Linked DNA regions of Homo sapiens. The gene in region 2 interacts genetically with the main gene of each other region. Each region holds a gene or a part of one and is shown on either strand. Other genes may lie near its edges.

Region 1 (3,500 bases), on a different chromosome or scaffold from region 2:
GGAAGAGGAGGAGGAAGAGTTTAGGGGAGAAGGCCAAGAGCTGTTTTAGACATGTAAAGTGTGAGATGCTCGTGGGATATCCAGTGAAGACAACAGGCAGGCAGTTGGACAGGAGTCTGGAGCTCAGGGAGCCATCAGCATGCAGATGCCAGTCTGCACAAACTTAACTCAGAGATACCGCTGAAAGCCCTGGGACCGGGTGTGACTGCTTAGGGCACTGCTTCTCAGTGGGGTTGGTGTCCTGTCCCTAGGAAACCTTTGGAAATCTGAATTTACTTTTTTTGAGATGGGGATCACTCTGTCACCCAGGCTGAGTACAGGAGTGCATCACAGCTCACTGTAGCCTCAATCTCTGGGGCACAAGCAATCCTCTCACCTCAACTCCCAAGCGGCTGAGACTACAGGCGTGCACCACCACACCTGGATAATTTTTTTATTCTTTTTTCAGTAGATATAGGGTCTCACTATGTTGCCCAGGCTGGTCTCGAACTCCTGAACTCACGTGATCCTCTGGCTTTGGGCTGCCACTTCAGACTCCCAAAGTGTTGGGATTACAGGCATGAGCCGCCGTGCCTGGCCTGAAAGTGTTTTTGACTGTCTGAAATATTGTGGGGGTGCTACTGGCATTTAGCAGGTGGGGGCCTGGAATGCTAGATGTTCTGCAATGTCTGGCACAATGAATTGTCTCATATCCTCTTGGCCCTTACAAACATCCTGCTAGAGGCTGGGCGCAGTGGCTAATGCTTGTAATCCCAGCACTCTGGGAGGCTGAAGTGGGAGGATCACTTGAAGCTAAGAGTTCCAGACTAGCCTGAGCAATATAATGAAACCCTGTCTCTACAAAAAACTTAAAAATTAGCCTGGCATTATGGATGGCGTGCACCTATAATCCCAGCTATTTGGGAGGCTGAGGCAGGACTGCTTGAGCTGGAGAGGTTGAGGCTGCAGTGAGCCGTCTTGCACCACTGCACTCCAGCCTGAGCAACAGAAAGAGACCCTGTCTCAAAAAAACAAAAACCAAACAACAACAAAACAACAAATATCCTGCCAGATATTGGTATAGGTAAAAAATGTGTTTACAGTTATCTGCACCTAAAACATAATTCCATTATACATATAAGCCCAAAGTTTTGGAGTGCTTTTGATTTTCCATGGAATCTTCTAGGAATGTAACTACTATGTAAATAAACAGATTATTCTTTACTTTGGACTCTAATCAACTTTATCTACCATTTCACAAAGCCGTATCACCAATAGCATCACTCCTAGTGGTATCCAGTTGACACTCCCGTCTGCATTTCTAACTGCTGCGTTTGAGTACAGGGGCAGACGCCTGAATAATTCACTTTGTGTTCTGACACAGCTGTGCTTAAGCATGTACATCTGGAAACATATTCGAGTATTATACAAATTCGTTTATTTCCTCTGATGTTCTTCCCTATTATAGTTACAGATGAATACTGATTTTTAAAATAACGATGTGGGTCAGTGGGCTATATCACCTACACATGTCAGTTCAGTATAGTAAAGAGGGGCCCTACAAACCACCAGTTAGAAAAACGGAGCACAGGGTAACAGGCTTCTGGAGAACCAAAGAATGGGCTCTGAGCCACTTCAGTGTTTAAGGGTCAGGAAAAGAAGGAGACAGCAAAGACAGAAAAAGCAGCCATCTAGGTAAAAGGAGACAAGAAGAGGCAGGAGTCCTGCCAGCCAAGTGAAGAAGGAGTCAAGGAGAACAGAGTTAGTACAGGCTGAGCATCCCAAATGTGAAAATCCAAAATCCAAAATGCCCCAAAATCTGAAACTTCACGAGCACTGATATGATACTCAAAGGAACTGCTCACTCGAGCATTTCAGATTTGAGATATTCAGATTTGGGATGCTCAACTGGTAAGTATAATGCAAATATTCCAAAATACAAAATACTTCTGGTCCCAAGCATTTCAGGAAAGGGACACTCAACCTGTAGTATGAAATGCTCCTGGGAGGTGGGATAACATCTGGGAGGTGGGATAAGATGATCGCCAAGAACTGGCTACTCGTATTTTTGGCAAGAGTGGTTTCAATGGCGAGATGGGACTAGAAGTCTGCCTAGAAGGGATTAGAGAAAACGCGAAGGCAGCAAGTCTGTACCATGTTTTCAAGAAGTTATGCTTTTACTTCTTGAAAAAAGATGGGGGACCAGGGGCATGGGTGATAGCTGGAGAGGGAACAAGAGTACAAGGATGAAGTTTGTTTTTTTTTTTCCGAGACGGAGTTTCGCTCTTGTTGCCCAGGCTGGAGTGCAATGGTGCGATCTTGGCTCATCACAACCTCCGCCTCCCAGGTTCAAGTGATTCTCCTGCCTCAGCCTTCCGAGCAGCTAGGATTACAGGCACGCGCCACCACGCCCGGCTAATTTTATATTTTTAGTAGAGATGGGGTTTCTCCATGTTAGTTAGGCTGGCCTCCAACTCCTGACCTCAGGTGATCCGCCTGCCTCTGCCTCCCAAAATGCTGGGATTACAGGACTAAGCCACTGCACCCGGCAACCGGATGAAGATTTTTTTTAAAGGTTGATAACTGCATGCTTTCATGCTAATGGACTGATCTAGCAGAGCAGGGGAAATGGATTACAAGAAGGGGACAACTTTAGAAGCCATGTTCCTAAGTAGAGGAGAGGGACAGGATCCAGTCCACAGGTGGAGAGGCTGGCCTAGGAGAGACAGCTCATCCCCTGTAATTGGAAGAAAGAGCATGCACGAGTGGAGAGATGCAGGAGGTGAAGCATTAGATGAGGTGGGAAGGTGATGATATGAGGGCTTCAGAAGTGAAGACGGGCATGGACACATCATCTCCGGTTGGGACTGAGCATCAAGTAGGGAAATCTGGTCAGGTTGGCAAGGGTCCCCTTAAGAACTATAGTTATAAATTTCAAGTGGGATTGTTCAGTACAATTCTGTGTTTTTTCTCTAGTTGCTGGGGGACTAACCACCGAGATTTTACTGAGTAAATCTGATGGTGAGGGCAGGGAGAGCAGTGGGGTTGAGAGCATAAGAGCCTGCAACAGCAGACCACAGAATCCAAGCGGGGCTAATAGGAATTGTGGACACGGTTGGGGGATGAACAGTACCTGAATGTCAACAAGCCAACTCCACCCTAGCAAGGCTGCATGGTTCTCCTATGTCTGGTGGCTGGGTCTCCTCCAGACTCTTAGTGTCCGCCAGCCAGAACTACAACCTGTCCTTCCATCCTGCCTGGCCATCCCACCCTTGCCCAGCCTCCCTCGTCACCACATGCCAACTGGCTCCTACCTGGTCCCGTATGCTTGAGGATAAAGTTTTCATCATCGAACTTCTTCCCATAGATGGACTTGCCCCCAGTGCCATTGTGGTTTGTGAAATCACCGCCCTGGCACATGAACTGGGGGATGATGCGGTGGAAGCTGCTTCCCTTAAAGCCAAAGCCCTTTTCATGAGTGCACAGGCAGCGGAAATTCTCTGGAATTGAGAAAGGAAAAA
Region 2 (3,500 bases):
CTGCTGCCCCTGGAAACTGCCTGTTTGGCTGGATGTCTTGGAATTTATCAGGCCTACATTGTGGATCTTTTCCAATTCTGCACCCTGCTCACTTGAAAACATATTTGAGAACTAGTAATCTTAGACTGCTGAGCCAGACCTCTAGAGAACCAAGAAAGAGAAATAACTCTAATACTGTGCCCTTAATATTGTCCTGGGCCATTTATGGGTGGCTGAGATTTCTGAAAGCCTTTGACAGCCGCTTTCATTATTCTGTGATTCATGTACATTCTCTCTCTCTAGGACCACATTAGGAGGAATCTAACCCTGCTACATTTGTAGGATACCTGAGTATAATAATGATATGAGGAAATCAAATTATTTCTCATGGAGTAATGATTTTAATTTGAAAATTGTCTCCAGCTCTACCTAGCAAAGCAATCCATTTAGGCATGGGTGAACTGTAGCTTTTAATTCATTCCTTTGGTGAACATTTTTTGAGCACCAGACACTAATCTAGGCACTTGGGATATGTTGCCAAACAAAACTGACTGAGATCTTTGCCCATGAAATATGTGTTCTAGTGGGGAAGGCAGACAATCAGCATCATTAATAAATAAGTTATATATTATATTAAAAGATGATACATGCTATAAAAAAAGAAAAGCAGACTAAGGGGAGTTCTGGGGCACAGTTTTAAATTGGGTGGTTTAGATAGCAATGACATTTAAGCAAAGACTAAAAGAGATGAGTCTTGGCTCAGATGGATTTCTTCTACATAGGGTTTCATAAACATGACTTCATGAAGTTATGTTTGTGACTCTCCTTATGTTTCCATATACCTGGCTGTGGCCATCTGGGAATTTCCAGTGGTCTATCTCAAATTAGTCTCAGTGGTGGAGCACCTAGAAGCTGCACTTTGTAGACCATGAGCTATTGATATACTTAATTACATCTTCCCAACCAGGAGCAATTTTATTAGGAGAAAATGTGACTTTTATATGTATGCATTATAAACTAGGTTTTACAAGCATAGGTACAAAGCAACAACAACCCCCCCCCCAAAAAATACCCAAACTATCAAATTAAATATATCTTATTTTTTCAAGTTTTTCTGTTAATATTTACTCACTATTATATTTGTTTTATCATCTTTTAGAACTTGCTAGCCTGGGTAGCAGGCACCATAGATTTGAGAAAAATTGTGGAAAGCAAGCCTAAAGTTGTGAAAACCTGCCCCTTTAACTTAATTTTCCCCCCAGCTGATGGGGAAAACACAGCCATTCTGATTTGATTTTCTCTGTACAATATCCCATTCCTCTTCAGTGGTACATAGGTTAAGAACCACTCTTCTAGAGTAAGTCTGTTAAATCAGATATGAATTAAATAAAAGTCTTGTAGACTCTTTTCAGCTTTCTCCTTAGTTCCTCTGGAATCTCAGGTAAGGGTTTGCAGCCATTTACCTATTTTTTTTTGGCCTATTTTTTTGCCATTCACATGGGAGTCAGAATTTTTATTTCTTTGTTTTTTTCTTTCTTTCTTTCTTTCTTTTTTTTTTTTTTAAGAGACAGAGTCTCACTCTGTCACCCAGGCTGGAATGCAGTGGCACAATCATAGCTCACTGAAGCCTCAAACTCCTAGGCTCAAGCAATCTTCCTGCCTCAGCCTCCTGAGTAGCTCGGACTACAGGCGCGTGCCACCATGCCCAGCTGGGAATCAATGTTCTATCAAAAAGGATCTGAGAGATTTCAAGATATTCTGTCTTAACAAAAGAGTGGAATGAGTAGAGACAAGGAACCAAAGAAATTCAGCCCAAAGTAGATTTAGGAGACGTAGTCATGATTTTCATTTTACCACTAGAACTATAAAATGCTAATATCTAATCATACCCTTTTCCCCTTTAGTCCCTATATATAGTTTGACAAGTGATAGATTATTAATAAACATTGAATTAATGCTTCCACTCATATCTTGTTCTATCAGAGTGAGTTCTATAGAACCTAGTACATGGGGTTTCTGTTTACTAACATTAGCTTCATCTTTTTTCCCTTTAATTCTGTCCACGCTATCCCTCCCACCTCTGCCCTCTTACCACAGACAAAAATTAAAAACAGGTTATAGTTCTCACTGAGAACTTGTGGTTCTTTTCAGCCCCAGAGCACCACTTATTTTCCTTACCAGTAATGAATTCATAGGATCATAACTTCCAGTGAACCTTCTCTTAAACAGCTTTTCATTTAGGTTAATGTCAAGTCTTTGTATTCTGTATCTCTGTTTTACTTCTGCTGTTGTCCTGCTGTTTTATCTCATAGATAGGGAGACATTATTAAATGCCTACAAATGTGCATTGTTTCTGAAAAAGCTTTATGAGATTTGGATCTTTGTGAACTAAAAACAATAACCACCTGGTCTCAATCTGCTGTCCAGAGGGACATATTGTATGTGTGTAAGAGCATGAAATTCGCTTCAGTGGTAAGTGTAACTGAGTTATGTGGATTTAGCATTCCATGATGCCAGCCTCACGTGGTAATGGACCTGGGAAACCTAATTTTGTGGTTTCAGGGCTGTCCAGAAAGGGAGATAATGTCAGGAAGAGAACATCTTTTTTATTTTTATGGAGTATCACCCAGATAATAAGTGATGGAATGGAATTTTACTTCAGGAACACAACTTTATGGTTTAAAAGAAAATGTCTGAAAGTTAGAGGTAAACCATCAGGATGATATTTGATATAGTAGACTAGCCATCAAAGTACCAGCAGGATTGTTTCCATTTTTATCTGGCCTCTTTAGTCAACCACTGCGCTTTTCCTTTGCAGAGTGTTGTTCGCTGCCTGTGGCATCCAAAGCTGAACCAGATCATGGTTGGAACTGGAAATGGATTGGCTAAAGTCTATTACGACCCCAACAAGAGTCAGAGGTATTTCATAAGTATTGCCTGTTTTAGATGGATGACAACAACTGGGGGGAGGGATTTCCCTCCCACCCCCGCTTTTATTTATTTCCCACTTTGATGGAGATCCACCCATTTAGAAAATGCAGCTGGAACAAAGTAAAGCCTCAAACTCCTGGTATTGTGCTTTAAAAAGGATTTGAATATTGCCCTTGATCCACACTGAATTCAAAGCGAAAGTTTCCTGGGAATTTGCAGTTGTTTAGCTGAAATGTTGAGTGCAAGGGGGAAAAACGTTCTGCCCACTTTGCATACCACCCTGGACAGAGGCATTAGCAGTGATACATGTAAGAGATTTAACAAAGCAGGGAACTAACCACTTACAGGAAATGGAATCAGCTTGTCCATTTTGCTTCTTTCTTTTTTGGCTTCTAGCAGTTTGGATGTTTGGCAAGATTATTCTCTGTCCGCAGAAAGGGACAGCACAGATACGTTTCCCCTCCACCCCCATGCCCACCCAAGTTTCAAACTTAAGCATACCACTGTATTTCAAAAGTCTGAAAACGTAACTAGAGGTTCAGTCATTTCCTCAGTTATTTCCGTTTTGCTTAGGCACAAAGATGGATATG

Evidence for each region. Genes that interact genetically often act in the same process or in processes that back each other up.
Region 1: changes in WDR70 (region 2) and PPIE together harm fitness more than expected from each alone (negative genetic interaction), as found in Homo sapiens cells (one large-scale study listed by BioGRID).

What each region holds. Positions count from the first base shown.
Region 1 is NC_000001.11:39,748,882-39,752,381, reverse strand, and holds part of PPIE (peptidyl-prolyl cis-trans isomerase E), read right to left. Parts: intron 3,480-3,500; coding exon 3,294-3,479; intron 1-3,293. UniProt on the Homo sapiens protein: Involved in pre-mRNA splicing as component of the spliceosome. Combines RNA-binding and PPIase activities.
Region 2 is NC_000005.10:37,718,318-37,721,817, forward strand, and holds part of WDR70 (WD repeat-containing protein 70), read left to right. Parts: intron 1-2,797; coding exon 2,798-2,898; intron 2,899-3,500.